2 separate regions of the Homo sapiens genome follow, and region 2 is linked to region 1. A link means that fine-mapping ties the variant in region 1 to the expression of a gene that starts in the linked region. Tissue or cell type: thyroid. Region 1 holds a variant in brackets; the other region holds the start of a gene. All regions are shown on one strand. Distances are from middle to middle. Region 1 overlaps PPM1H (protein phosphatase, Mg2+/Mn2+ dependent 1H). Region 2 holds the start of MIRLET7IHG (MIRLET7I host gene).

Region 1 (16,150 bases):
TTACAGCTTTGTGAGAGAAGTAGAGCAGTTGTTATATTTCCTTTTTCTTGTGTTTTTCAGTTTTTGAAAAATGATTTCAGAGATAGGAAAATTGAGCGCTAGGCCAGGTGCAGTGGTGTGTACGTGTAATTCCAGCACTTTGGACGGCCAAGGTGGGCAGATCTCTTGAGCTCAGGAGTTTGAGATCAGCCTGAGAAACATGATGAAACTCGTCTCTACAAAAAGTAAAAAAGTATAGGTGGTGTGCACCTGTAGTCCCAGCTACTTGAAAGGCTGAGATGGGAGGGTTGCTTGAGTGTGGCAGGTTGAGGCTGCAGTGAGCCAGAATTGTGCCACAGCACTCCAGCCTGCGCGACACAGCAAGACCCTGTCTCAAAAAAAAAAAAAAAAAAAAAAAAAAAAGAGTGGCTCTTCTCAAGTCACAAAGCTTGTTAGAAGCAGAGACCTGAAGCAAGGCTTCTGATAACAAGGGCAAGCCTCTTTCTCTTCCACAAAGCCAGTCCTGAGCTGCAGGAGCTCATTGTCCTACATTGAGTACTTAAAAGGGAAAAACCAGTTTGGAGAATCTGCTGAACTGATCAAGACACAAAAGCTGTGAGGGCATCCTAGAGAAGCGGCAGAGATTTGGCAAATGGAAGAATTGATGGATTCTTTTTAAAAGTAGCTTTAAGAAGCCAGAGTCAGCTTATAGGTGTATGAGCCCTCCTAACATGCCACCAAAATATCATCAGTAATAAGGCAAAGATGGGAGCAAGTATTACACAAACGCTGAAACAGCAGCCTGCAGCCGAGCACTAAGTGGAGGTGCTGTATTAAAGAGTTGCTTGTCACAGGCTCCTGTGTAAAATAAGTGCCCAATGTTGACATTAAGGACATCTCTAAGTGCTCTGAAGCTGAGGGCTCTGTGAGAGCAGTCAGCACTTGGCTCATTCAGAGCACATTAGTCAAGGTTCTTGTTTGCCCCCAGACTTATTCCTGCTCCCCCACACTGAATGTTTATTGGCAGCTCCACTGAAAACAAAGGAAGAAAAGGAAAGAGTTTGCCACTTCTGTTATATATCAGCACATTACATTTGTTTGACGATTTGGAAGTGTCTCAGTTAACAAACTAAATCTGTTGGATCACCGTGAAATGAGGGGGTCTTCTGAAAGTATCTTGTATGTTTAATTTGTTTCTTCCACTCTCCTTCCCCTGTTTATGCTTTGCCTCAGCAAGTATGTCCTGAAGACCTACTGTGGTTTACACTATAGAAGATGCTGCTAGACCCACAGAGGAAATACAAATTGGGATTTCTGGGCCTTCAGAAGTTGAATTTTGGTGGGACAATAAGATGACCAACCCCCTGGGTGTTCATTGTAAGCTGGACAGGGGTAAAATACCCAATAAGGAAATGCTTTCTTCGGTTGTGAATTGAGTGCTAGGCACAGTGCTCTGTTCTGGGTACAAAAACAGATAGGATAAGATGGACCTTATCCCTAAAGGAGTTGATCGTCTGTTACAGTTTTTCAAGGTGAGATTCCCCCCACCACTTGCATCAGAATTCCCTGGGGTCCTGTTGAAGTATGCAGCTCAGATCTGTACAATCAAGACTCTTACAGGTAGGATCTTTGAATCTTAACTTGGTTAAGGTAGCACTCCAAGTGATTCTAAACACATTTAGGTTTGAGAATATCTAGTCTTTTAGAAGAGACAGAAAAGTGGGCCCTGAAAGGCTGATAACAAAGATGCCAGCGGTGTTTCAGGGCCAGTGTGCTGTTTGTCAGTTGCCTGTCTCCTTTGTTGTGATCAGATCATAAGGAAAGCTTCAGAAGCCTCATGAGGGGATGGAACACATTCACTTTTTGTTCTTCACCTGGTTGCTCTCGCAAAAGCAATAGTATTCTGCCATATTCCAGGTTCAGATTCTGCTGAGACAGGATCAGCCTTGAGAGTCTTCCAGGGTAGATCAGATGCTGTGTATCACTCTCTGTACCTAAAGGACAAGGCACAAAGCTTCATCTCTGTGGAACAATCAGTTTCGACGATTATTCATTCAGTGAACCAGGTGTTAAGTTGGGCATTGAAGATACAAAGCAGAAAAAAACAATGCCAACCCTCATGGTGTTTACAGTCTAGTGTCAGGACAGGGCCATAAATCGATGATTACAGTTTCACACAAAACTGACAGACAAAGATTTACCCACAGTAAAGCATATAGGTAAATCTTATATTAGTGGGTGTGAAAGGATTGTGCCTGCAGAGGACCAGGGAAAAGAAAGATGGCTTCTCTTTGGTCCTCCTTAGGGTTGCTTTGGCAGGAGAGAGTGACACCCACCTTTCTCAGCCCTCCCTTCTTCACCACCAGTCTAACACTGAGTAACAGGAATCCAAAAGAAGGTTGGGGAGGTGCAAGAAGGGACCCATGGGAAATTGACTCGCTCAGATGGTACCTTCCCAGAGAGGTCCACCATGACCTCATCTTCTAAAATGACTCTATTGTTCTCCTTACCATGCTGGATTTTTCTTCAGAGCATCTTTCATCTTCTGACATTGTAATTTATTTGGGTGTCTATCTCATCTACTAGTTTAGAAGTTGTGAGAGGCTTTGTCAGTTTTAGTCACTGTGTCCCCAGTGCCTGGAAAACGAGTTGGCACACAGCAAGTATGCAATAAAAGCGTACTGAAGGCAGCAGAAAGGCAGGTCCACACAGGTCCCATTTTTTAGCTGCTCAGATTATATTGTTCTGAAAAACTGCAAGAATCTCAAGGATTCGTCTGGCTTTTTTCTCCCTTTCTTGGTGGATGGGAACCCGGGAAGGAGCCATTAGAAGGTCTGACCATGTCCCCCAGTCCCACTTCAAAGCCGTTTCTGTAGCACACCTGTCCCCTCCAGGGCTGCAAAGACTCTTCCAGATGTCTGAGTCCTGGGGAGCTTCAGAGCCCATTAGTTTGATGTGAGGCTTCCAGGAACATTAAGAAGCTATTTAAGGAATTGAACAGGGGAACTTTGAGGATGTGGGTATGGTTCGATTGAGTAAGGCCAACAACAGCTTCAGGGAGGGAAGGTCAGGACTCCGGAGCCCAGTGGAATCCTTTGAAGCCTTTGCTGCTGGGGAGGATAAGCACACAGTGGGATGACTTGCGCGGCAGTCCAATTCTTCTGAAAACATTTTTGCAAAATGTTCTGCATCACAGGTTAATGTATAGGACACGAGTTGTAAGTGGAAAGTTAGCAAAGATTTTTGGAAATTGGCTAAAGGGCAGGAAACAGAGGGTGGTTGTAAAAACCTCAAAAGATGTTAATTGGGGAGTGCTTCACAGACCAGGGTTGTGACCAGCTTTTTATTATTTTCATACAAATTACATGAAGAACGGTCTTGAGAAGGATTTTCATGTTGGCTAATTAAACTACATTAGGGAGCCGAGCATAGAAATGGGAACGGTAGAATTAGGGAAAGATTACATTTATTGATGGAATTGAAGAGTAGCATTTTATAACGTGTGTATGTATCAACCCACACCCATTCTGTTGGCCAGATTTCCATTTGAGTGTGGACAAGACAACTTCAGCTTGAATAACACAACCTGTCACATTTCTTGGGTCAGCAGGAAGCACTTTAAAGAGGGTTTGGCACCCTACTCATAGGGCAGACTCTGAAATTAAATGGATGTTATCTGCAGACCTGAACCCTCTCTTTTAGAAGAAGCTGCAAGGCAAATGGAATCTCCTGTTTAACTGCAAGCATAAGATTGAGACATCCACATCTCACCACCTCTTATGACTCAATATTGTCTATCATAAAGAGTTCAAATTATCCCAAAAATTTATTGTAGGTATAACCCAATAAGAAGCTAGGAATCGGCCAGGCGCGGTGGCTCATGCCTGTAATCCCAGTACTTTGGGAGGCCGAGGTGGGTGGATCACCTGAGGTCGGGAGTTCGAGACCAGCCTGACCAGCATGGAGAATCCCTGTCTCTACTAAAAATACAAAATTAGCCGGGCGTGGTGGCACATGCCTGTAATCCCAGCTACTAGGGAGGCTGAAGCAGGAGAATCGCTTCAACCTGGGAGGCAGAGGTTGCAGTGAGCTGAGATCATGCCATTGCACTCCAGCCTGGGCAACAAGAGCAAAACTCCGTCTCAAAAAAAAAAAAAAAAAAAAAAAAAGGAATCAATCCTCTAAACACTATTTTTTTTTTAAAGACTGGGTCTCACTGTCACCCAGGCTGGAGTGTAATGGCACAGTCATGGCTCACCACAGCCTCAAAATCCTGGGTTCAAGCAATTCTCCTGCCTCAGCCTCCCAAGTAGCTGGGATGACAGGCATGCACTGCCATGCCCAGGGTCTCATTGTTTTCTTTAATTTTTGTAGAGATAGGATCTCACTATGTTGCCCAGGCTGGTCACGAACTCCTGGCCTCAAGTGATCCCCCTGCCTTGGCCTCCTATTAGCAGTGTCTCTCAAAGTTATTGTATACTGAAAGTAACAACACAGTGAACCAGTACTTGAAGCTAGGAGCCCAGGGGTGACATTTACAGTCTGTCAACAGCCCACTCTAAGGAACAGTCTCCACAGTCATCATAAAGTCCACTGAGACGTTGATTCCCTTGTGTACAAATCTGGCCCAGTAGGAATCCTCTCTGGCCTTGCTACTCGGGGCCCGGTCTGTGAACCTGCAGCATTGGCATCACCTGGGAGGAAGTTGAACCACAGCTCTCAAGCCCACCCGGAACTGAATTGTAATCTGGATTTTAGCAGGATCCCTAGCTGACTTCTGTGCACATTAATATTTGAGAAGCTCTGCTCTAACACACCGAAGAACCATGGAAAATAAAGCATAGGAGGGTTGCTTGTTTCTGATACAGTGAAAATTGGACCACATTCGTCAGTGACCTGAGGACAGAATTCTGACATTTGGGACTTTCTGGTCTGCCGGAAACTGAGGCTTTCATGTTTTCTTTAATTTGGCTTAAAAGGCTGAGTGCCCTCTCCGGAACATAAGTTTAGCCTTAAGTGAGCATGCCTTTTGGAAAGAAGATGTTAAACACCAGTGCAGTGTACTCCTGAGTGTTCCTCCCTTGAGCGCAGCTCATGTGCTGGGCCATTAGCTAATTGTTACCTTCTTGTTCACAGGCCACAAAGGCCTGGCGCCTGGTGGCTGCTTTTCATTTGAGCTCATTCACCCAGGGCCCTGTGGGTAAACATTTTGTTGTGTTCTGCTGCTGGGAATAGACTGTCAGCCCACAGGACCAGCCCCATGCCAGGGCATCACTAGCCTGGACAAACCTTTCTAAAACATAGGAGGCTTGGCTTTCAAAGACCTAAACAGATTTAGTCTCTAGGCTGAGGTGATATGATTGTCTCTAGATCTGAGGTGACATAACAATGGCTGTGCCATAGGACATGTGCCCTGACCCATCGCTTTCACTCAGACTTGCATTTAGAAAATAACAGGAATGGGCTGGGCATGGTGGCTCATGCCTGTAACCCCAGCACTTTGGGAGGCTGAAGCAGGCGGATCCCTTGAAGCCAGGGGTTCCAGACCAGCTGGGACCCAGCTGGTAAAACCCCATCTCTACTAAAGATACAAAAATTAGCTGGGTGTAGTGGCATGCACCTGTAATCCCAGCTACTTGGGAGGCTGAAGCGGGAGAATCGCTTGAACCCTGGAGGCGAAGGTTGCAGTGAGCTGAGATCACGCCACTGTACTCCAGCCTGGGCAACACAGTGAGAGACTCCGTCTCAATTAGAAAGACAGAAAATAGAGTAATAAGGGAGGCTGAAGGGGATTGATTAAATTGACTTGCTTTTCTTCTCAGTTCATGAGATGGTATAATAGGCAGGGATTGATTCTGCCAAATTAGGAGGGAAGAGCAGTGAAACCCCAAATCCCTCTCCACACCTCCCTATCCCTCCCCTCCCACATTGAAGTAGGATGGACATAGAATTGTGGCCTAGCCCAAGAGAGGCTTGATTTTTATTCTTACTAGTTTTGCCTAGGCTGCCTCATTCTCTTTCCAGAGCTTAGGTGGGTGTTGAAATATCCAAGTCATTTAAGGTACTAGACATGAGGAAAGACTTAAGTCTGTCAAGACAAAGACATACTTTGGAGGTTCAGAGTGAGCGTGTATCTTCTGTGAGCCTCAGTTGAGGCTCCTGAAACATGAAGGTAGTGTCAGAGCCCCCATCCTTATGTGAGAGGAGTTGGCTGCTTGGGCCTCAGAGCAGGTAATGCAAGAAAGGTTTCAAGTGAGTGCATTAAATAGAATGTCTCGTTACTCCTAGACAAATACATGTAGAGCAGCTACTAAGAATCCTGAATTGGTTTTATCTCCCCCACAGACTGAGACCTCCTCTGAAGCAGAAAAATCAGATATTTAACTTTGCATTTATAGCACTTGGCACAGGGTAGGCCCTTAATAAATGTTTGCTGAATGAATACGCAAAGGAAGACAGCAAACAAGCTCACTGCTGATCTTCTGGCTAGCATAAAATCCACTTATAAATCATCATTCTGACTATACCTCAGACATTACATTTTCAATTAATTTCTTCTATGTCAATTACTAAGCCCACCGCTTAGGCTCATTCACAAATGTGTATTAGGCCCCATGTGTCTATATAGCAAGTCTCCAAGGGAGACTATCCCTGGCCACACAGCTCGCTGTATAATCAAGTACCCTACAATGCATATCTGAAAACCACTAGGCTGGGCAGGAAAAGGGAAGGGGAATCAGAAGTCAGTTTGTTAGGGAGAATAATATGCTTCCAATTTCTTAAGTGGTAGTATTCTTGTTTTTTTTCAGGTAAGAATCTACGATCTTTCAAAATATGATCATGGATCAGATGATGTGCTGATCTTGGCCACTGATGGACTCTGGGACGTTTTATCAAATGAAGAAGTAGCAGAAGCAATCACTCAGTTTCTTCCTAACTGTGATCCAGATGATCCTCACAGGTTTGTGCATTTCTACAATTGTAGGGTTGTTCCTCAAGCATTCTTCCATGACATGCCTGAAATTAATAATCATGCAATTTTCATAATTCATGACTTAGAGGCTGATATGGACGGTACAGTAACCAAACTGCAGAAGGGATTACCTTTCTTGTAAGAGGTACTTTCCAGCCAGGTGTGGCGTCTCATGCCTATAATCCCAGCACTTTGGGGGGCCAAGGCGGGTGAATCATGAGGTCAGGAGTTCTAGACCAGCCTGGCCAACATGGTGAAACCCTGTCTCTACTAAAAATACAAAAATTAGCTGGGCATGGTGGTGGGCACCTGTAATCCCAGTTACTCGGGAGGCAGAGGCAGGAGAATTGCTTGAACCTGGGAGGTAGAGGTTGCAGTGAGCTGAGACTGCACCACTGCACTCTAGCCTGGGTGACAGAGCGACCCTCTGTCACAAAACAAAAAAAAAGAGGTACTTTCTCTGCCAAATAAAAATCCCCCTTAAGTTGAACGTAGATACAAGTGGTAAAGAATTTGAGTGTTTGTTTAGGCATTTCAGCGGCATACCTTTCTCACATTTTTACTTCCTCTAAGCTATCCTCTAAAGTAGAAATAATCCCATTTCTGATCCTGTTGATGAGAGTGATGGCAAATGCACCCCAGCACTGATAGTCATCCATTGGAGAATTGTTTCTTTTGAGAAATACTTGGTAAGAAGAGAAAGATCCAAGTTAAGTATTTCTTACAGTCTAGCAGCAGTGTAAATAACCTAAATATCCTTAGAAGACTCTCAGAAATAAACAGAAACTACCTCTCGAGAAAGGCAGCTTTATCTAGAACACAAGTCACCATGAGTAAAAGCCAGCAGGAATAACAGAGGCATCAGAATTGGACCTGTAAATACTTCTTTATTGGATTTAGCAGTCAAAAATATAAATATTTTTAGCTGGGCATAGTGATGCATACCTGTAGTCTCAGCTGCTTGAGAGGCTAAGGCATGAGAATCGCTTGAACCCCGGAGACAGAGGTTGCAGTGAGCCAAGATCGCGCCACTGCACTCCAGCCTGGGTGACAGAGGAAGACTCGGTCTCAAAACACAAACAAAAGAAAGCCAACAATAATATAAAATATTTTAACATGCTTCAGAAATTTTTTTTTAGCCAAGCATGGTGGCTCACACCTGTAATCCCAACACTTTGGGAGATAACGCAGGAGGATCACTTGAGCCACAGGAGTTTAAGACAAGCCTGGGAAACATGGTGAAACCCCATCTTTACAAAAATTAGCTGAGCATGGTGGTGCATGCCTGTGGTTCCAACTACTCAGGGGGCTGAGGTGGGATTGCTTGAGCCCAGGAGGCAGTGGTTGCAGTGAGCCAAGATCGATCACACCACTGCACTCCAGCCTGGGCAGCAGAGCAAGACTCCGTCTCAAAACAAACAAAAAAATTTAAAGCATTTAAAATAGGAGTCTTAAAAGAGACTAAAAAAATGACTAAACAATTTTTAAGAAAATGGAATTCTAGAGATGATAAATTTAAAAATAGGAATTAAAAATTCACTGAATTAAACAGATTAGAGCTAGTTGAAGAGAACACTGGTGAACTAGAAAATTGATCTAATAAATAATCCAGTAGATGGCTTAGACAAAGAGAAAAGACAATGTGAAATGAGATTAAGAGACTAAAAAGATGGCCTAAGGTGCTCTAAAAGAATTCCAAAAGGATAAACTATAGAAGATGGGAAGAAGTTCCAGAATTTTTTGTCAATACTAAACCTAAGATTCAGAAAGCCTGACAAATCTCTGGAAGGAGAAATAAAATAGTGAAACCGAAGAAAAGCCGAGTGCTGTGGCTCATCCCTGTAATCCCAGCACTTTGGGAGGTGGAGGCGGGCAGATCACCTGAGGTCAGGAGTTCAAGACCAGCCTAGCCAACATGGCGAAACTCCCATCTCTACTAAAAATACAAAAATTAGCCAGGCATGGTGATGCATGTGTGTAATTCCAGC[T/C]ACTCAAGAGGCTGAGGCATGAGAATTGTTTGAACCTGGGAGGCGGAAGTTGCAGTGAGTTGAGATCACGCCACTGCACTCCAGCCTGGGTGAAAGAGTGAGACTCTGTCCCAAAAAAAAGAGAAAGAAACTGAAGAACTTTAACCCCTTTGCCTTCCAAAAATATATTAAAAGCAGCCAGGAAAAAAAAAAAAAAAGAAGACATTCAGACTGACAGCCAACTTTCAAAAGTAAACGGTGCCAATGGTGGGATTATATCTTCAGCTGGCTAAGAAAAAAATAACTGTCAATCTAGGAATTTTAGATGTAGCAAAACTATCAATAACAAGGATGAAGTAAACAAATTTTCAGGCAAAACATAAACTGATACATATTACCGCCAACTAACCTCTTCTGAAGAAATTTCTACAGGGTGTGCTCAGGTAAGAAAAGGAAATGATCCCACAGGAAATATCTGAGAAGTAAAATGGATTATTAAGCTAAGGTATTAGTAAACATGTGGTCATATTTAAATATACCTTGACTATATAAAACAGTAATAAGAATGTCTAATGTGTGGGTTAAAAATGATAGAACTAAAATATTGCATAAAAATAGCGTACAAATTGTCAAGGGAGGGGTGTTAGCTCACATGCTATGCTTCTTTTGAGAAGTTAATGGTGTTTAACTTTAGGCTTTAAGTAAACAAGTTGAAATAGCTAAGAAAACTGTTAAAATAATAGAAAGGGTAACTTCTAAACTAGTAAAGGAGAGGAAACTCACATGGAATAGAAACCAAACTTCTAAACAACTTATGAATCAAAGGAAAAAATTATAATGAAAATTAGAAAGTACCTGGGCCTGAATAATAATACATATCAAAACTGTAAAGGCTGAAATTTTAGCCTTTTTTTCTAATTTAATAAACTAAGCATAGATGAAGACTCCATTCACCTCTGACCTGCCAGAAATGACTATTATCCCTCTATGCCATGAGCTAACTTTATCCAAATGTCCCCCTGTGTCACAGGGAACCTCTGGCCACAAGATCCTGATTTCTGGAAACAGAGAAGAAAAGAAAGATACCCTTAACCACAGAGAAAGATATTTCTGAGTGAGGCCCTAAGGGCTGACTTGTGTTACTTGGCTAGTTCGGTCTATATTCTTCGCATAAATGTACACAGAATAATTTTTTTTTTTTTTTTTGAGATGGAGTTTCGCTCTTGTTGCCCAGGCTGGAGTGCAATGGCGCAAATCTCAGCTCACCGCAACCTCCGCCTGCCAGGTTCAAGCAATTCTCCTGCCTCAGCCTCCCTAGTAGCTGGGATTACAGGCATGTGCCACCACGCCCAGCTAATTTTGTATTTTTAGTAGAGATGGGGTTTCTCCATGTTGGTCAGGCTGGTCTCGAGCTCCCAACCTCAGGTGATGCGCCCACCTCGGCCTCCCAAAGTGCTGGGATTACAGGCATGAGCCACTGCGCCCGGCAAGAATTCTTACAACTTAAAGGCTCTAAGGAGCCAAAGTGAAGCTGCCTACCTAAATTGATCCATAGAATCAGTACAATTATAACCATAATACCAATGGTGTTTTTATGGAGCCCAGCAGTTCTACTCTTAGGTCTGTACCCTGGAGTGGTGGTTCTGAAAAGCACGGTCCTTTGAGCTACATGGCATCAGCAGCACCTGGGAACTTGTTAGAAATGCAAATTTTGGCTGGCATGGTGGGTCATGCCTATAATCCTAACCCTTTGGGAGGCTGAAGCAGGAGGATCACCTGAACCTGGGAGTTCAAGACCAGCCTGGGCAACATAGTGAGACCCTGTCTCTACCTTTACATATATATTTTATAAATTTTTTTTTTTAAAAGAGAATTGCAGATTTTCAGGCCCCACCTGAAATAAAAACTCCAATGGTAGGACCAACCATTTGTGTTTTAACAAACCATGCAGGTGATTCTGATGCTGCTAAAATTCAAGAACCGACTCTCCTAGAAGAACTCTTGCATCGTCGTTCATGCAAGAAGATATTCACAGAATTGTTTTTATTACAGAAACTGGAAGTAACTTGCGTGTCCAGTGGTGGGACGGGTAAACAAATATTGGGATACTTTATAGCACCTCCCCCACCCCCAAAATGAGCCAAAGCTGTGCTCATTAACAGGGAAGAATCTCAAAAACATAATGTTGAGTTTAATAAGCCATAGAGGAATACATACATTAGAATTCTATGTACATGAAGTGAAAACTACCAATATATTGTTTAGGGATATAGACATTAAAACTATAACAAAAACCAAGAAAATTGGCCCAAAATTCAAGATAATGGTTACTTTGAGAGGAGAAGAGGCAGATACCAAGGGGAATATATGCTTGAGGCCTGTTGGGTTTCTAAGATATTTACTGATAATATTCTGTTCCTTCAAGTAGATGGCAGGTACATTGTTGTTTGTGTTATTTTTAAACTATAAATGGTATATGAGAGGCAGGGTAGTCTCGTGGTTAAGAGCCTGTAATCTATAATTACTTCCCGAGTTGAATTTTGGCTCTTCCCCTTCTAGATTTAGGATCTTGGGAAAATTTCTTAACTCTTCTCTGATTGTTCATATGTAAAATGGAGATTCCAACAGTATTAACCTCATGCATATATATTATTAGGTGAAGTGCCTAATAGATAATAAGCACTAATAGATGTGTGTGTTGTTATGTCTCACATATTTCACAACAGAAATTCAGGAAACGTGAAGGTAGACCATCTGTCTCCTCCTCGAATTGTCTGATATAATTCAGCTCAGGTGTGGAGGAATTGATGGCACTATAATTAAATATTCTTTTATTTGAATTTGAATGTGTTTTTCGCCTTTCAAGTTTCATGTTATGTATCCCACTTGTTAGCAACATTCTCATGTTGATTTTTCTCTACTATGATTATTTTTATAAAGCTTTGCAAAGCCACCTGCCAGTTATGCATTAAAAGGCACTCAGCACTTTTTTTCTGTGTCTAAGCTGGCTTGGTCTTGCTTACCAGCCTTCCTCCAGAGTGATAAATCTGTATGCCAAGGAGTGGTAACCTGTGGGCAGCGTGCACATGCCAGGTCAGAGCAGGCTCCTGGGGTCCACGAGAACTGCTGCCTACGGAGGCAGGGTTCACAAGGATCTCTTTGGAACAAACAGGATGGGAAAGAAAAAATGTTTTCTGTATGCCTTTCGGGGAAGATGGCAAACCAAAGCAATAGAAAGAATCCTATATCAGATGGATGAATGAATGAAAGGGAAAATTGCAAGGGGAACACAGTTTATCAGCAAGAAATAGACTATCAGTCTGCAGATTAGACAATTATGGTTGTAAAGACAGGTGCAGTGGCATGTGCCTATAATCTGAGCGACTCCATAGGCTGAAGCAGGAAGATGGCTTAAGCTTGAGTTCAAGACCAGCCTGGACAACACAGCAAGACTTCCTCTCTAAAAATAAGGAAAAAAAAAGTGTTTTAACAGACAGAACTGGCCTAGGTGCAGTGGCCCACACCTGTAATCCCAGCATTTTGGGAAGCCAAGGCAGGCGGATCCCTTGAGGCCAAGAGTTCAAGACCAGCCTGGCCAATATGGCGAAACCCCGTCTATACTAAAAATACAAAAATTAGCTGGGCATGGTGGCACCTGTAATCCCAGCTATTCGGGAGGCTGAGGCACGAGAATCTCTTGAAGCTGGCAAGTCGAGGTTGCAGTGAGCCGAGATGGTGCCACTGCACTCCAGCCTGGGCAACAGAGCGAGACCCTGTCTCAAAAAATAAAAAAGAAAAGGAACTGAAGAGTCAAGGTTTTCTTCTTAACAAATAACTCCCATTCTGATTTGTTCATTTGGGAAATACCACTAAGGACCTATTATTTTGTGAGCCAAGGCCTGCTAGATACTCGTGAAGAACACACACCTCAGCTCTGCCCTCTTTGAGTTTACAGTCTGGAGGGATTACAGCAGCATTAACCTAAAGCAAAGGATGTCTACACTTAAACCTGAAGAATAAACAGGAGCGAGGCAAGGGTCAGGGGAGTTGGGGAGAAAAAACATGGCACATTCTGGGACCCAACAGTCAGTGTGGCTGACTGGTCTTGGAGGTGGGGAGCAGAATGTCAACAGATGAGGTGTGAGGGGTCAGCAGGGGCCCATGATCTCATGAGATCATGAACGTGAAAATTATTTGTGTTAAAGGAAGTCTGTGGTAACGATATGGAATTTATGTAATTTGTTCATTATGATTCACAACCAGGAAGCATTCTGCAAAATCTGATGGTGAGAAACAAGATGAGGATTGTTTTCCTACCCCTGTGTGTTCCTTTAAGTAATTACACAATATTGGGACATCAGAGAAACTTAATTTGTTTCAGACTGACAATTTAGGTCTTAGCCAAGAAACCTTTGCTCAGACCAATGTCCTAAAGCATTTCTCCAGTGTTTTCTTCTAGTAGTTTCGTAGTTTCAGGTCTTATATTTAAGTCTTTAATTTGTTTTTATTATTTGATTTTTGTATATGGTGAGAGACAGGGCTCTGGTTTCCTTTTTCTGCATGTGGATATCCAATTTTCCCAGCACCATTTATTGAAGAGACTGTCCTTTCCCCAATGTATGTTCTTGGCACCTTTGTTGAACATGAGTTGGCTGTAAATGCATGGATTTACTTCCAGGTTCTCTATTCTGTCCCATTGGTCTATGTGTCTGTTTTTATGCCAGTACCATGCTATTTGGGTTAATATAGCTTTGTAGTATATTTTAAAGTCAGGAAGTGTGATGTCTCCAGCTTTGTTCTTTCTGTTCAGGTTTGCTATGGCTGTTCTGGGTCTTTTGTAGTTTCATACAAATTTTAGGGTTGTTTTTTCTATTTCTGTTGTCAAACTCATAATTTAGGAATATGTGAAACAGTGTTCTCTTTCATGTGTTTGCCATCTTTGTACATACCTGTGTGTAATTTGGTAGGAGGGCACCACACTCACACACCAGTTTAGGATGTCTCCTTGGGAGGCTCATGGACAAAGAGAGCTCAGTCCCAAGAGCCAGTGCCCTCCCAGCTGGGAGCTGTTCTAATCTTGTCATGCCAAATGGAAATATGAGTAGAAGTTGCCAAGTCATAATTTCTGTGATGAGGAAAGGCCCACTATAATTCCAGAGGCTCTATTAGCCCTTCCTTGGCCAGAGAGTTCCTATTTCTCCATATGTAGCCTGGGACTACACGTTTGCCTGTTTAATTTTCAGTGGAGAGTTGCTGGGTTCAAGCCTGAGGGAACTGACCAAAGGAGGTCAGCCTATTGTTGGACACAAAATGAGAAGGGAAAAGTTCTCCCCAGGGTGGGAAGCCTGAGGGAAGGGGAATGGAACAAAGCCGGTGAGAAGGGTAAGGTGCTTCTGCATCTGAGGTTTTGAGTGGGCCTGTTTTACTTTGAGTCTTACCAGGATCTCCCAGTTTTGTCTAGAAAGGAAGCAGGACAAAAAGAGGCAGGGAATGAGGCCTGAGACAGGCAAGACTAGGGGCTTTTGTCGTTTGATTGTTGGGCTTTTGTTTATGTTGCCTGTAGGTTCCTTTTCTTTTTGTTTTTCTTTTACCTCCTAGTGACAGCCATTCTAAACAAATTGCCAGCATTGTCTTCCTCTGTTGACATCCTTCCCAGCAAGGAATTTAAAATAGCATCTCCCCCTCCAGAATGTGCTGTGAGGGAAGAGGTGATTAGCATAAAGATGTGTTCTGACCCTCACACCATCCTCTCAGGCAGAGATGGGAGTAAAAATGAGCTGTATGATCTTTCTGACCCTGGTGTATCTTAAGTCCTTTTGCTCTTTTGAACTGTCTCAACAAAGGAACCAGAAAATTAAAAGGCGGCTTTATGGATGAGCCAGAATATGAGTGCAGTAAGTTTTTCTCTTTTTTTTTTTTTTTTTTTTTTGCAGTTTTTACGGTTTTTTAGAACACAATGTGCACATGAGCTGTCTACCCATTTTCTTCGCTGCACAGCCTGGCATTGGGGTTGGTGACTCTGATGGCCAGCTGGGCAGCTCTTTCCACAACGGCTTTGCAGTTCTTGGAGGAAACATTGTGAATGATCTCAGCACAGTAAGATTTGTTGCATGGCAGCAGCACTTCCGGCTCCTTGACGCTGTGGATCAGGAACTTCCGGAAGCCACTGGGCAGCATGTGCTGTTTTTCTGTTGCTCCCATAACCAATGTTGGGCATCAAGATCTAGCCTTTGAACCTTCTATGAGCCCTGTTGTCAGTACCTCTGGGTTTCTGCCAGTTACGCTTAATTTTGACATATTGGTCAGACTGGTGCTGGATGAACTTCTTGGTTCTTTTTTTGACAATCTTGGGCTCCACAAGGAGTCTGAAGTTGGCCCTGATGCCAAGGAGGAGATGGCCCCTCTTTCTTTCTTTCTTTTCTATCACAGTTTGCCCTGAATTGTAGGGAAGCTGGCAGTTCTTTTACTCTTGTGGGGTCACGAAATGAACTGTTCCTAGGAAATGCATTGCGCTAACATCCTGGAGTGGGGTTGCTGCAGGTAATGGAGGTTGGGCTGCACAGTCCTCTGGTTCCTTATAATTCCAGTAAGGTTCTCTTTTAAGCCCTAAAGATCCTACATGATTTGGAGAAGGCACTCAAACCTGGAAAGGGTTTTCTGATGCAAAATATCTGCAACTGACTGTCCCCTCTGTAAGGCTGGAGGTTCAGTGGGGGGGTCTCCTGGGAAGAATATTCAAAACGGAGGCAAATATGTAAACACTCAGAGAAGAAGACGCTTACCATTTTGTCAGAAAGGAATAAATTGTTACTATTACTGAAGGGGAAGGGAGTGGGCAAAGCCAAGAGGAACTAGGGCCAGGGAATAGCTAACCAAACTTGGAAATGCACATGGATTCACATTCCCAGTGCCCAGGCAAAACTGTGCAGGCTTTGCTCTAGAGCTTCATTTCCCCAAAACTGTCTGTGGAAACTTCTTTTTTACTTAAAAAAAAAAAAAAAAAAAAAAAAAAAAAATTCACCGTGTTACCCAGGCTGGTCTCAAGCAATCCTCCTGCCTCTGCCTTGGCCTCCCAAAGTGCTGGGATTGCAGGTGTGAGCCATCATGCCTGGCCCCACCTCATTTTTTTTTTTTTTTTTTTTGTAACCTGGATTTAATGACCCTCTGTCTCCCTGCCATGACCCTTGAGGGGCTTTTTATGCAGTATTTATGCAGTATTAAATCTGTAAGA
Region 2 (16,150 bases), 65 kb after region 1:
CTGTTGTAAATGTTAACATTCTATCAGACGTTCTGCACTGTGAAACTGGAATTATTCTGTAATGAGGAAATCTCCCTCACAACCATTTAGTTACCCCGAGGTATAAATTATATAAGGAAGGTAGGATACTTCTTTCTTTCCTGTTCTCAGGCACCACAAGGCTCATAATCGCTCTCCATAGCTTATACTGTTAAAATAATCTGACGTTTCTGCTCCAGAGAGATGCATTCTCTACCTACTCACAGTGCACTCCTGCTTCTTTGAACTTTTACCATGTTTAGAGTGTACATCATAAAATGTGATGTCTGGCTATGGGGTCTAGATTCCTCCACAAGGTAGTTGGGCACTTGCTACAACATTGTAAGCTCTTAAAGGTGAAGTACCTCCTGCAGTGTTATCCTGTTTAGGAGATAGAAAACAGCCCTGGCTGACCAGGCGCGGTGGCTCTTGCCTGTAATACCAGCACTTTGGGAGGCCAAGGTGGGCGGATCATGAGGTCAGCAGTTCGAGACCAGCCTGGCCAACACGGTGAAACCTCATCTCTACTAAAAATACAAACATTAGCTGGGCGTGGTGGCGGGCGCCTGTAATCCCAGCTACTTAGGAGGCTGAGGCAGGAGAATTGCTTGAACCTGGGAGGTGGAGGTTGCAGTGAGCCGAGATCGTGCCATTGTACTCCAGCCTGGGCAACAAGAGCAAGATTCCGTCTCAAAAAAAAAAAAAGAAAGAAAGAAAACAGCCCTGGTGAAACTAAATTATCATCTTTTTTTAAAAAAAATAGGTACAATTATAACAAAAATCAATGGGAAATGGCTTTTTTAAAACATACAACTGGAATATCAATAGTGGTTTTGGAGCAAGGGCTCTAGAACAGGTGTATGAGTGGAACTCAGGTTTGAAAACAACTCAGGTGGCCCATGGATTGTCCTCACTACATGTCTGTAATTATTATTATAGGGAAATGTATTCCTTTTACAATGTGAATTCCATAATGTGGAGTTGGTTTTTTTGTGTTTGTTTTTGTTTTATCTTCTGTATATTCCCAGCACCTGACATAGAGCAGGTATCCGATTCACCTGTTGAATTTATCTGGAACTTATTTATTCTGTATAAGCTTCATTCACTACAAAAAGAAATGAATGGCAGATAGGATTCTTATTCTTAGGTTTTTCGTCCGAACTCTTAAAAAGTATGTAAATTTGTTTTTAAAACAGAAAAATATACTTTAATTTGCTTATGTATCTGTTTTTAGAGTTTAGTCAACTCTTTCGGCCATCTATTACGGTAACATTAAGTCAGTGTTACTATTATGACTAAAACTAGCCCATGCCTGTATCTACATAATACTTCTGTTTAACAAGGGCTTTAAAATACACTATGTGCAGAATATTAAAACAGCAATCTCTGAATCTTAATACCTTTTTGGTAGTTATGTTCAAAGTGAGATAAAACACCCGTTAATTGTTTATTACTCAACCTAAGAGCAGTTAAGGGATTTTTCAGGTATAACAGAAAACACATTACAACTACATATATGATCTAAACTGTCAATGTCTGTGGACAGTTTTTAGTCCTTAATTTACTTGAATTTTCTGTGACATATCACACAGCTTGGCTTTCTGCGAACTCCTGACTTCCATGATAAAATACTCTCAATTATATTATAATGGAACTAACGGAATTTGTAAACCTGATTCGAAGAAAATAATATTTTCTGTAAGTGTTGTTTGATGTTGAATAAGAGGAAAGAACTAGGAACTTATCCTTAAAAACACAAGATTGTGTCTTAGGTTTGTTCATATTTGATATAACTAAAAGACTAAAGTTACACTATCGGGTGTCAATAGTATGCCTTTAAAGGACCCTATTCACAAATTTAGTGGCCAAAAATCCTGTGTAGGCACAATTCCATTACATCTGAACAAAACAGCACTTTTAAAGAAAGGTAAATGTAAAACAAATTTAACCAAAAAAAAAATTTTCAACTTGAGATAAGAAAACACATAAATTCCATGTAGAACTGCTAATATTTCTTTTAATTCTGATGACACTCCCAGCGTATTTGTAGCAGATAATATGAAACTAAACTGTAAATCACCTAGAGTATCATTATCACTGCGATTGTCATCTCCAAGATCTCAGGCAACAAACCTAACCAAAAGAACTCCCTAAATTACTATACTATTTGAAGTGTTCCATACTTCCCTTCCCCCTTAGCTCATTCAATCACTTTTCTGCCAGGTCTCAAAAGTGAAGTAGGTCACTAATGTTTTTCTCACCTGCCCACATTTTGATTATTTATTTAATTTCTTGAGACAGAATCTCAACTATTTTGTCCAGGCAGGTCTCAAACTACTGGGCTCCAGTGACTCTCCTGCCTCAGCCTCCAGAGTACCTGGGATTATAGGTGCACATCACTGCACTGAGCTCACATTGATTTTTTTTTTTTTTTGACAGTCTCACTCTGTTGCCCAGGCTGCAGTGGTGCAATCATGGCTCACTGCAGCCTCAAAGTCCTGGGCTCATGAGATCCTCCCACCTCAGCGGGGACTACAGGCAGGCACCACCACACTCAGCTAATTACATTTTGATTCTTAAACACTTCATGTGACATCTTTCCTGTTTTCCTTTGGGGCAATGACCTAGCTATACAATTATTTTGCTTTCCCCATGGTGCCCAATAGTGATAACCTAACAAAAACACTTAGTGAACTTCATTAGACAATCTTAGAAATAATTTTCAAATTTTTGCTTAATTATCTAGATTATCAGTAGCGCCAACAGCTTTTCAGAGTTTATGACAATGGTCATTAATTCTCCTTTTGGGTACTACCAATCTGGCCTAATTCATTTTCGAAGATGATTGTCCTATTTACCTTTTGTTGTAGAAATTACAGAGGGGATTATTCAGTGGGAAAGGAAATTAATAGTATCTCCTTTGTCAGCTTCACCATGGAGCGGGTGGAGTGTAATAAACAATAGCGGGAGAGAGCATGTAGCTAGGAAGAAATCTCAGCCTTTTTGGTGCTTTGTGCTTATACACTGAAGAGCTAATTTGTGCTGTCAGGTGCCTCTGTCAGGAATTCTTTGGGGACCACTCCACAAGACACAATGTCTTGAGTGCACCCTTGCCAGTCAGTCTTGCCTACCTGCCAAAAGGTTATTTTAAAATAGCTTGTAAACAAAGCTTTTCTATGTAAGATTAGCAATCAGGAATTTTAAAGTATGAAGCAAAACTGTGTTCTCCAAGAATCTTCTCCATATGGTGTGTCCTATATACCATAACACAGTCTCCATTTCCAATTGAGGATGACATTTATTAAAATGTTATTACCATAACCCAGCTTTCCTTTGGTTTAGTATGTACTTATTGAGAAGGGCACTCAAAATACTGCCTTATTACTTTCCACCAGTGGCTTTTTACAACTACAAATTACTTAAATGCTTGACAACAGACCTTTAACAAAAAAGTTAACTGCACCAAGTAAATGTCAATAATACTAAGTTCAGAAAGCTGTATTTTTGATAAATCAAATTCATCTTGTGGGAAACTGTCAACAAGGAAAATGTTCAGTTGGTAATTTTCAGTTGGTGTGTAGAGAAATGTAATTAGCAGATCATTTTTAAAACTGGAGATTAGAGCAGAAATATAGCTATGGGATTAAAACAAGTCAGCTGGTGGCAGTATTTTCTCTTGTAACTTAGGAAACAGTTAACCTCTCAAAGTACCTTTACATCCAATAACTCAAAAATGTTACTACTATTTGGGCAATATGTAGTTGTGGATAAAATTTACTTTAAAAACACAAGATATAAAGTATGAATAGTTTATCTGTATAGGACATTGAGCATTTCTGGTGTGCTTATCCGCTTAAAGTTTAAATTACCAGCAGAATTTGTTATACTTTGGGGTGCAGATTAACAACCGTTGATTCTCCATAAAAATGTTAGAGTGTAGTGGGTTGGAAGATTACCTCGGTTGGTTGAATGAAGTGTTTTGGAAAATAAAATCATAATGAAATTAGCATGTTATGATTAGTTTCTCCATAAACCAAGATTTGACACAGCACCGCAGAGGTTTTCATTATTTAAGAAAACAAGCACTTAACAAAGCCCTGAATTTACTCTGCGTTGCTATCAAGAAAAGCAAACTTCAAGAGCCAACATTCAAGCATTTTCTGCATCTTAAGATTCAAGATAAGGTTCTTCACCGCCCTTCCCACAATGAGGCGGCTCCATCCTGATGAGATCAGATTAAGTAAGGTTATTCTCAAGGCTAAACCAAACCCAATCAAGGCACATATATTAGATCACTTTTGAATGATAAAAGCATCAAACTCCTGCTGAAGGGTTTGGTTGGTTTAAAGAACTGCCTTATTTGTTTTTCAACTGAGCATCAGAAAACCATAGAAAACTGCGATTACATTATATTCAAAACTACTTATTCTGTACAAATACAGATCAGTTTTCAACGAAAAGTACTAAAACTGACCACTTACTTCCCTCAGTGAAAATAAAATAAAAATACAAGTATCTTGTTTTCCACGCAGACTTCAGGGTATTAGAGCACTGAGTATTTTCATTAGTTATCCAAACTACCTTTTTTCTCTATGCAAAGGTATTTTCCTATTAGGAGTAGTGGCCACTCAGGAATCAAAATGAGTGTTAGTAGATTTTAAACTCAAATCTAGAAACCACTTTCAATTCCTAGTCCTCTTCTCCCATACAAAACCTCAAAGATGTAAGTACCACATAACATTAGAATCAAAGGCCATAAAAACCAAAAAACCAACCCACCACACCAGCAGAATCTGAGCCCCAAGGTTAAACTAAAAAGAAAAAACAAAAAACAAAACCATTCACAGCACACTGTACATAGAATTTATTTGTTTGCCTCATACATTAAAAAATCGGAATAGTGCAATTACCTACAAATAATTTCAATCTTCTCATTCGCGAGTTGCAAAGTTTAAAGAGAAACTTTAAATTGCTTTGGGTTTACGTTTTTAAAGACACACTCAGATTTACTAAGAGAGCATATCAGAAACCAGATCTAAAATGTTAAGGCATAAACTTTAATTATCAGGTCTACTTCTTCTGCCCCTCTAATGCCAGTTCTGCAGATCGCTCACACCACTCCAACCTACAGCTAAAGAATGAAGTAAAACAGGTACACACTAAATTTGGCATTTAACTGCTGAAAGAAGTGTTAGAATTTTTTAGGGTGAAAAAGTTATCTGTATCAATTATCTTACACAATTCCACTCCTTCCTTCAAGAAAAGGAATCCAATGGCTTAGCTCTTTCCCAACCTTTAAAATGCATCGCGGTCCACCCCACTCCCCTCAATTCCTTCTAGGAAAATGTGAAACTAACGGTTTCCGTGGTGGCCGCGCCGGCCGGGCGCCGAGGCTTCGCGGGCTGTCCCCAGGCAGCGCCCCGGAAAACAAAGGGGATTCCCAGCCATTGTCCTCCGCGGCGCTGAGCATCACCAGCACTAGCAAGGCAGTAGCTTGCGCAGTTATCTCCACAGCGGGCAATGTCACAACCCGACCAACAGCACAAACTACTACCTCAGCCAGGGCCATGGTGTCGGGGAGGCACGGGACCACGCGGAGGGCAGCAAAGCGGCTCCGGCGCTCCTCCGTCCTTCCTCGCCGCCGACGTCGGCCCGCCGCCCCTTCTTTTCCTTTGCCTTCCCCCCGCGCCGCGCCCGGAGACCCCGCCCAGCACCCAGCGGCTCGGCTACTCCCGGCGCGCCCCGAGAGCTACGGGGATGAGAGGCGGCGCCGGCGCCCGGGTGATACAGCCGGCGTTCTGTACGTCAGCCACCGCTCTGAAGAGAGAAAAGCGGCGGTGTCCTGCGGAGAGAGCCGCTCCCTCCACTGCCCGAGGGGAGCGCGTCGCCTCAGCCGCTCGAAAGCAGGAAATGGGCGGCAAAAGCGCAGTCAGACACCAACTGGTTCTGGACTGCCCCCGAGAGGCAGCGAGCAGCGCTCCCGCGCTTCGCCCGCTAGGAGCTGCCGCCACGTCCCGAGCTGCGCCGCTCGCGCCCCTCCCTGCTCCGAGTCCCCGGTGGGGGCTGGGCTGCGGCCGAGTCCGGTACCCGGGCCCCCACCCGCGCCGCGCTGTCGAACCCGCCGCCGGCCCGCTCTCGGCGCCGATAATCGCCGGCGGGCATCCCGCAGAGGCTGCCGCCGGCTCCGCCAAACAGCAGCCAAGGCATAGCCGGGAAGTCCCCAGGCCACCCGTTCCCCAGCACCCTTCGGGGAATTCCCGTTCAGCTCTACAGGAGGCGAAAACGGAACAAACGAAAACCCCTTAACAGTGAAACCGGGCCCGGCGATGGCCCGGGTGGCGACTGCGACGACTCGACGCGTGCGGACACAAGACCCGTCTCGCGCTCCGCTGCTCCTGTGCGTCCGGACGAACCTTAGAGATCACTTAAGGAGGCTCGCGCGCTACTCCTCACCACGTGACCGCCCCGCCAGGCCGCCCCCCGCGCCGCCATCTTACATCCGGGACAGAGGCGGCGTCCCCTTTCCCTGCCTTGGCAGGCGTCAGCGTGCTACCAGAAATCAGCCCTGAAAGAGGGGACCCCGATTCCACGTCACCAGAGTGCTGAGGCAGCGGGCGATGCCCTCCATCGGCTCAGCGGGGGGGAGTGGAGTCCCAAACTTTTTTCGGCCTTTGCCCGCAAAGAAGATGGCGGCGCATATCGCCGCCTAAGCGGACACGTTGTACCCTGGCCGTGGTTTGAAGTTTCCGGCACCTCCTTTCCCAACCAGCAAGGACACAACCATACGAGCCCCACCCACGCGGGGTGGCTGCCGTGCTACATTCCGCAGAAAACAGGCGGGAAAGCTGCGGCACAGCCCGCTTTAAACGCAAGCTTTTGGGACTTCTGGTTTTGGCTTTTTCTTTTTAAGCCAAGTTAGGGAGAAGGCTGACTGCCATGGAGCCACTTCTGCTTTTGGCCCAGACAACTTACGGGATTTTTTTTTTCCTCCCATTTAGAGATTTTTTGTAGGAAGTTAACAAATTATTTTAAAGAAGTAGTTAGGGCTTGTCAGATAAAATACAGGACGCCCAGTTAAATTGGAATTTCAGATAACCAGTGTTTTGGCATATGTGTGTTACATATATTTTTAAAATTGTTTATCTGATATTCCAATTTAACTGCACATTCTCAATTTTTAATGACTGTATCTGGCAACCCTATCAGCCTTTACCCCTGAAAATCCAGACTGCTTATGACAAAAGTAAGGAATGGAGGGAAATGAAAAGCATGTTTACCTACAACTTAGAATTGTCTTTGCCCAGACTTTGATCCTTCATGGAGGCCAGAGGGCCGTGGTCTAGAACAAAATTTGGCAGCAACTCATAAAGATATCCTTGTATAATTCCCTTTCTGGCAAAGTAAGATTTTTTTTTTCTTAAGCTATCACGATGTAATTTTGGACAACAGATCCTCTTGGCCAAGAGTTTAATTGCAAATTAAAAATTAAATAACTGGCTTTTTGTTTCTATTCTACATGGTATAGGCGATGGGACCCAAACAATTTCTTAAAGTAGAAGTTTTCAAGTTAAAAATCAGCCTGCCTGACATATTTCATAAGAACATTTTTAGGTGCATATTCAGAAACTATTTCCAATTAAGAATATTTGTGTAAACATAATACATTTGCAGTTAAATGCTTTACCTGACAAAGCATAAACTCACCTATCAATCACTAAGCATAAACTCAAAGCAAAAACTCAATCACACCATAAACTCATCTATCAATCACTTACCAGAAAGTCTGTAGAAACTTCACACCATCCTTCCTTGATAAGCAAAGATTGGACTGCCATGGGAATCAACCCTCACTGCTCATTGACTGCGCAGTGGATCAGATTATTCTGTACCAAAGCAAATGTCCTTTGCCATAATGGCACAGATTTTTAAATGGCCACTAAACACCTGTTTGGTCTATGGTATACAGATTTGTTACAGCAGTAGTTTCCAACTAAATTTAGTCATTATACTACTTTATCACTTACATTCCTTTCCATAATGTTTTTAACAGTGCTAACACCAATATACTCATCATCCACATATAATGTACTGTTACCATCAACTTTTTCTCCCCCCTCCCTGCATATCAGGAATCTTAAGTATCCTTTCTGAATATGACCACCGTTAATCAATTCTTTATCATCACCTCATAGCAAGAAAATTGCAACAGCTTTCTAGCTTAGCTTTCCATACTGTATATATCCTATCCTGCTTATGATTGCAAGTTTATCTTCCTTGGTTTTATAATTTATTCTTAAATCACTCCAGACCCTGCCATCTCAAATCTAAACTACTCTCCTTGGCTTTCAAGGAATTTTATGAAGGGACCCAATCCTTCACAACCAACCTTGTTTCACACAATACACCAAAATGCACTGTTTTCTATTTCACAGATATGCCTTGCTCACATTATCTTGCCTGAAATCCCTCCGTATATCCTTTGAACTCATCCAAAATCTAGGTAGCCATCAAGACTAACTTTAATTTCTATCTTAACCACTGAGCTTTTTCATTTCTTTAAAAAACTTCCTTCTGACTACTAACAGCACTATTAACCTGAACCACAGAAGACTAGGCTAAGGTTCCTATTTTATGATTTCATTTTAATCTGTACTTGTCTTTTACTGTACTTTACATACTTGTTAAAAGGTCTGTATTCCCTATAAAACTGAAAACTCCATGAGGACAGAGACTAACCCAATGCTTAACGCAAAAACAGGGTCTAAACAGTTGTTAGTGATACACCAGTATTTAATTGTATAGTCTTGTATCCAGTATTATTTTATATATGCGGTTTCCTTGACTAGCTGTAATAAGCACTTGAGAGCGCTCCAAATAGCTTCTGTCATACAGCAAGGACACAGTTATTAGCACACAGTAGATTCTTAACATTCAGTGGTTGTCTGGTGAAAGGCAAAAAATTGGTCCCTATTGTGGGAAGACATGGATTTTCTGGCCATTCTTGAATGATGTGTGCCAAATGTGTTTTACTTCCCTAACCACCTAGTGGTGATGATGCTCCAGGCACAGCGCTTTAGAACACACTACATTTTGAATTCTGTTAAATACCACGATTAACTCCATTTCACAGAGGAGGACACCAAAACAGGTTAATTAACTTGCCCAAGGTCACACATTTAGTAAAATAACAGAGTTGGGATTTGCATCTAAGAAGCCTGGCCCCAGACTCTGGGCTCTTAACCACAATGCTGTTATTTATAACATAACTTCTTAAAACACACAACATATGTTTTAAATAGATAAAATGTTTTAAACCTGGACCAATAATAAAAACCCAATGCAACTTTCAAGGTCATCGTTAAGACAAATCTTTTTTTCACAGTATTTTTAGTTCTTTGTTATGTTCAAGTATATTTGTCCCAGTGCCCATCATAGAAATAGTAATTGCCTCAAGAGTATTTTTAGTTTATTTTATAAGTCTTGGATTTTAATGGACTGTAAAACATGAAACTATTGTACTGTAGTAGAAAGAACTGCTTTTGAAAAAGCAAGACATAGTGATCCACCTGGACTTTAGGTATGTGACTCTAGGCAGCTCACTTCAACCCCCTAATCCTTGACTCTTCTGTAAAATGAAAATAACTTCTTTGCAAGGCTACTTTGAGGATTAAAGGGAATAATATAGGCAAAGCCTTGGCCTGCACATACTAGGTACTCCAGAAATGGTGGTTAAAATTACGCATCAGAAAAATTATTTTAACTATATCTGACTGCAGTACACACTGAGTAACGTACAAATTCTTGTTTTATACTTTCATTACATAACAAAAAAAGGAATTTTAATGCAAATTATTTTCTTTGAGAGGTAGAGAGATAGTCTGGCATTGATATGGACAGGCAGTTTCAAAACAGCTTCACCAAATTAAAAAAAAATGCTCATAAGATTAAGATAATCTAATCTACATCAGGATTTTTACTTGACCTAGCATTTTTACTTAAAGTTCCAAATCTTTCTTTCTAAACTATTGAGAGACACTTCGTGTCTTCTGTTTATTATTTTTTCATTTTATATATTAATGGTTTTAATAAAGCTCTCAAGAACATTTCCCCTTTACTCTATAATTTTTTTTTTCCCAAAGTGATCATCCTAAACATGTGACTCACTACTCGTAAAGTCTTTAAACAGAGTAAGTGATGTGGGGTGTCAATAATGTTTCAGACTTAACGGGGATGAGAAAGCAAACACAAAGTATATTCAAGAAAAAAATGAATCACTGGTCAGATCCAAAGGTAAATTATCAAAGTGGTTATGATTTTAAGTTATAAAGAAACACTAGTGTTGCTGGAACATAATTAAAAACCTGGAATCATGCTTAATGTTAGCTGTAAAACAAATAAACAATCTGTACAATCACAGTTATAACTATATAGCTTTCATGAAAAATCTATCCTAGACTACAAAGAAAATTTGGGTTTGAGGCCAATACAATTTCATGATTATAATACATAACTGATACATCTCAACAACATAAAAATTGTAAGGAGAAAGAGTAACAACAGTGGTATTACTTTCAAGAATTGTGTTGGGAACTAAAAAATAATTTCACAAAATTAGATAAATATATCCAGTCTGACATAAACACCATATGGTAGCTGCCTTAAGAGACAGGAGTTGTATGTTACGTGTTAAATTATGACACAGAGGTAGTAGTAAGAGATGGAAAGCAAATGAAATTTGCACAGTTGGGTCTGAAGCCTAATATTTTCTTTTTCTAGATAAAAATAAAATTGCAATATAGGTATGGAGTATTTTTCTCCATCTAGTAAACATCATAGAAGGAAGCAGTTGTTAATATATTGCAATGATTTTCCAAATAACGGCATGGTTTAGCAGATCTTCCCTGGCTGCACTGTTTATTGAATTTTAGTTTAAAATAAAACTTAGTGTAACTACATTCGCAGCAACTGAAAATGGTCTGAAAATTTAATTTTTTCATACTTGAGGGGATAGAATCAATACCATAGTACAATTAGGAAGGTTTCAATTGACCTCTGGGTGACCTCTGGGTGAACCAATCACACAGACACCAAATACACTCCAGAAAGACTCAGATATGAGAACTATAAGATTCCGGGTCTTCCATCAAAGACTGCTTTGCAACAGAAAAATGAAAATAGTTGAAATACATGGGCAATATGCTGCCTCAAATTATTCTTGTAAGTAGGCAGTGTCAATATAAATCAATATTAAGATGGGATAAATCTAAAAGTTTAAACGTCTGCCTCAAAAAAACAAATATCTCCCCCACCCCCCAAAATCATAAAAAACCAAAACCCTAATTAAAAATATTTTTTTGAACTAGAGATAGGATCTTGCTATGTTGTCTAGGCTAGTCTCAAACTCCTGGCCTCAAGTGATACTCCCACCTTGGCTTCCCAAAGTGCTGGGATTACAGGTGTGGGCCACCACGCCAGCCAAAACCCTCATTTAAACAGGTTTTAAATACTTTACTTTGAGAAAAGATATATAATCTCTCTACCCACATAACAGAAAAGACATGATTATTCCAAATTTAGGTGCTGAATCCATCATATTTATAGCAATCCCATTTTGTGAGCATCTTGGCTGCTGAATCCCGTGTATTCATAAAGACAGTAGGAGTTATAGTCACAATTTTTTTTTATTTTTAGTTTTTTATGGCACTTCCAGTTTTTGGAACATATTACTTTAACTTGTTCAGCTATTTCAAAATGGCAGGGGAACTTTACCTTGGCAAAAACGCAACAGTGGCCAAAGTGCAAAGTATTTCTACTTTCCACTTTGTAGTGGTAGAACCATGAGCAGTGGTTCTACCACTAACAGCTCCACTTCTTATGAACAAGGAATAGGCACAATTAGAGAAAGAGCTGAAAGAGAAGAGGCAGAGAATGAAAGAGGAATTAAAAGAGAAAAATCAGGGGAAAGTATAAGAAAGATGGTAACGTAAACATAAAATTTAACAAGGATAAAAACATAAAAGAGAGAAGGGGAGGGAAGAAAGTGATGTCCAAGAAAAAGGAAGAAAAATGGTCAAAGATCTCTCTTACAATATAGTAATAAATTTATCAAACAACTTGAATTACCCTGTCATTAAAATCAACTCCACACTCAAATTATGCATTTTTTCCTCTAAAGAATTAGTAACTCATTGATCATCATCTCTGTTTAGAAATAAGGAAACCGCTTTGAAAAGTCAACATGCCTAGAGTTAAATAAGAAGTAGCATCTCTGTCCATCATTGCCTCAGAATTAGTCGAGATGACCAAGAATATTCATATAGAACTTGCCACATGTTCTTTTAAATAGCCAACACTGTTAGAGCATTAGAAAGTATTGGATTTGTAAGACATTTAACTTCCTCTGAAATGGTCTGTATATAAATCAAGATACAAAGATATCATCTCTCTTTCTGAATCTATAAACACTTTTCATTCAAATGAAAGCACTATTCTACTTTCCAGAGATACAAAAACTTTAATTCAAGTGATCATGAAGTATTAAAGACTTTTCCCACTTTATATAAATTGGTAAAATACTATGTGGCATGAACTCCCATTCTTCTCATGAATGACAATTTTTTTAAAATAAAAATTCCCTCTAATAATGTAGATAAATACAACCCAGGAACACTAAGCATAGTAAAATGTGATGCTTTATACAAGATTAGCTTATCTGCCAAAATGCCAAACCTAAGTGGAAATCTAAGGAACATACCTGGCTGCTGGCAATGCTTTCAGAGATCATTTTTGTCTACATCTGTGGTAGTTTTCTCTGAAAAACTGTAATCCACAATATTCTGAGCCTGTACACTAACCCATTCCAAGGGTGGCACAGTTAGGGACTCCTGTAAGTGTTCTGCCTTGGCTAGACAGACTTCACCTACAGCAGTCTCTTGAAAACTTGGTTGCCCATCTGAATTATTCTGTATTTGGGGAGAAAATATTAGTCATTTTAAAATAACTACACTGCCCTTCATTGACACAAATGTAATAATGACCACCTCATTAATAAAGAATATACTTTTGAGTTGTTTTCTAACACTGTTCCATAACTTATGCTAATTCATCCTTAACTGTTTCTCAACTGATCCTTTGGCCCAATGGTTACCTGGGACTAGTGGTACCAAATTGTGACAATAAAACAAAATGCTCTTTAAAATTATACTGAGAAAGGACAAATAATCTAGTTGTTACTGGCCTGCTGTAGAAATAATTTAATTGAATATTATTCTCCAGAATAAAATATCTACACTAAATTGTTCATCTCTTTCTTCTGATGATACATACAAATTTAAGGAATATAGCAAGAGTTGAATCGATAACCATATAATGGAAAAAACAAGAAACAAGAAAGATGTTAGCTGTTAAGTGAATAAAATTAAAAATGAAAGCAAGTGAAAAGTGGTTCTAAGCTAGACTTTTTTATGCCTTTTGTTTGTTTTGGAACCTAAAAGGCTCCTAATAAATGTTACAAATGTATACAATAAAATTAACAAAACCTTAACACTAGTTATAAAGAAATACTAAAGACATTACAAAATGATGTATTTTTTTCTCCCTTGGCAGTGGTGGTAGCATAGGAAACTAAGAAGTAATCTATGCAAGTTAACAATTAGTTTATTTCCTTTATAATGGACAAAATGGCCAGAAAAAGACTTTATTAATCATACAATTGGTGGCATATGTCTGTTGTCCAGCAATATGAATAAAACAGGCACTGGCAGTGACAGCAAGTGACGATGTGAGGCTTAAAACTCATGGTATTGGCTGGGCGCAGTGGCTCAGGCCTGTAATGTCAGCACTTTGGGAGGCCAAGGCGGGCAGATCACCTGAGGTCAGGAGTTCAAGACTAGAATGGCCAAAATGGTGAAACCCCATCTCTACTAAAAATATTAAAAAAATTAGCCTGGCATGGTGGCATGTCTGTAATCCCAGCTACTTGGAAGTCTGAAGCAGGAAACTGCTTGAACCCGGGAAGCAGAGGTTGCAGTGAGCCAAGATCGTGCCACTGCATTCCAGCCTGGGTGACAGAGCGAGACTCCGTCTCAAATGAAAAAAAAAAAAAAAACTCATAGTATTTCTAGTAAGTATGACAAAGGACATTTTTACTACTGCTTAAAGGGCTGGTTATAGACTCAATTGTGCCATAAAATGATCTTATCTTTGAGAGCTTCCTTTTTGAATCTCCTGGCATCGAATACTTTCACACACCCCAGTTCTTCTAGTCACTGGAGAACCCAATTCATACTAACAAGACAAGGGCAATGTGTTCCATGCCAGCAATCAATTACTGTAGTGACTCTTGGAGGGTGACAGGAAATATTCTGGAGGAAAATCCTGTCCAATTATACTACCAAGGGGGCCACCCACTTGCTTCACACTAAGACTGGCATTTATTACCTTATTATATGATATTAACACATTCACTATGTTTATGTTTTGAACTGTAGGGCATGGTCCTGATAAAGCAAGCTTTGGTTCATATAAATGTATATTGCATACACTTGACTCATATTTAACTATTTAATTATCCTAATTGCAACTGATCTTTTATTTCTCAAGAACAGACCATTTTCCTTTGAATAAATGCATAGCAATATTTTTAACATGTTACTGAATCGGTACACTACCCTTGGGTTATTCTGTTTCAATGCTTTATCAGTGATTATGTGGATTTTTCTAATCCTCAATTTAACACACCCAAATATAGAAAATAAGTACATAGCTTGATTTTTTACAACTTTAAGGAAAATGCTGAAAGCAGAACTTATGAAATGCCATATTTTACCTTAATTTTAGGTGAAATAATAAAATAGAAATTCAGTAATTCATGTAAATAAAAAATATCCCCTCAAAGACCTTACTACATTTTACAGATAATGCAAATTAAATAATTATACAATTATAATAGCCTCAAAACTGTATCTCAATCATGACTCAATTATAATATCTTTTTGCAGTTTTATGATTATTCTGGAGAAGCTGAAATTTATAAATTCTATTAAGATCAAAGACCTTCCAATACACTAAAATAATACTGAGACCATCATGATTTCTTATGAATAATCATTGTTTTAAACATCTTTGTGTCTTCACATAAATTATGAAAATTTAACTCAGAAGAAAAATACTGTAATCCATAATCCATTAAATAAAAAATACAGTGAGCTAGGTCAAAGTCAGTATTTTAAGAAATAATTAAGGTATTGTACTCAAGAGCACTTTTCTTTTTCACTAGGCTAGGAAAGTGAAACATAATTAGCATTTTACTCCGTGACAGCAAGTTCACTGCACTTCTAAATGCTTGACTATCTCCAAAAATACACTTTTCATTGTTTTATAATACACACATATTTTATACTTGTGAGTTAACATAGGTATTTTTCTTGAGAAGACATTACAAAATGAAGCACTGATATGAACAAAACCTCACAGGCAAGATTTTAGAAAATCTGAAATCATCTTGCCTGGGTCATAATTCAAAGACAGTGACAAATGTTGTTAGGGGAAACAAAATCAGTAGAAATATAAAATATGAAAAGTCTTTAAAATCCAGACAGCCAATATAAAAAACAGACAGACTTCAGTGAAAGCTTGGAGAGCTGTTTAAAGAAATGAGGTATGATGAAGTCATAGTGCTACAATATGTATCAATGTATTAAGAACCTATATTTCAAAGCTCCAAAATCAGCAAATCATAAACTATTTGCTGCTGTGTTCACATGACCTTACTGGTCAGATGTTTAATGGTCACTAATAATACATTTAAAATAAGCATGAAGCTAACTGCATGATCATATGGTGAGCTTATCCGCCACATATGAAGGCAAATTATAAGTAAAAATGTAAGCAAACAATTTTGTATTAATAATAAATAGAGCTTTAAGCATTTAACATTATCAATACTTTTAAAATTTAAATAAATGCACTATTTTATACAGAACTGTACCATTTATTATACACACAAGTATATCAGTTCCCTTTGTTAACAAAGGCTGGTTATAGATAATATGGAATGTTACAGTACCATCTTGCATAAAATTCTAGTACGATTTTGTACTTGAAAAAGGGTGCAAAAACACCAGACTAATAA

Evidence for each region. PIP is the estimated chance that this variant, and not a neighbour inherited with it, causes the effect.
Region 2: MIRLET7IHG starts here. The variant in region 1 is fine-mapped to the expression of MIRLET7IHG in thyroid (GTEx, PIP 0.97).

What each region holds. Positions count from the first base shown.
Region 1 is chr12:62,657,968-62,674,117 of GRCh38, reverse strand. It overlaps PPM1H (protein phosphatase, Mg2+/Mn2+ dependent 1H), which reads left to right. Exons shown (of 10, transcript NM_020700.2): 9 at 6,789-6,940. It also overlaps the pseudogene RPL32P26. Among named protein-coding and RNA genes, the nearest start is that of MIRLET7I, 62 kb to the right of the region's middle. RefSeq lists enhancers at 14,144-14,670, 14,875-15,169, 14,671-15,196. The variant T/C (reference allele first, on the strand shown) is at 8,941.
Region 2 is chr12:62,593,117-62,609,266 of GRCh38, reverse strand. It overlaps MIRLET7IHG (MIRLET7I host gene), which reads right to left and starts at 6,524. Exons shown (of 2, transcript NR_186001.1): 1 at 6,432-6,524. MON2 (MON2 regulator of endosome-to-Golgi trafficking) reads right to left here. Exons shown (of 35, transcript NM_015026.3): 35 at 8,791-16,150. LINC01465 (long intergenic non-protein coding RNA 1465) reads left to right here and starts at 5,833. Exons shown (of 1, transcript NR_121682.1): 1 at 5,833-7,516. It overlaps MIRLET7I (microRNA let-7i), which reads right to left and starts at 5,581; the gene lies at 5,498-5,581. RefSeq lists enhancers at 5,141-5,662, 5,663-6,184, 6,291-6,480, 6,561-6,670, 6,185-6,706 and 1 more and silencers at 5,511-5,810, 5,901-6,210.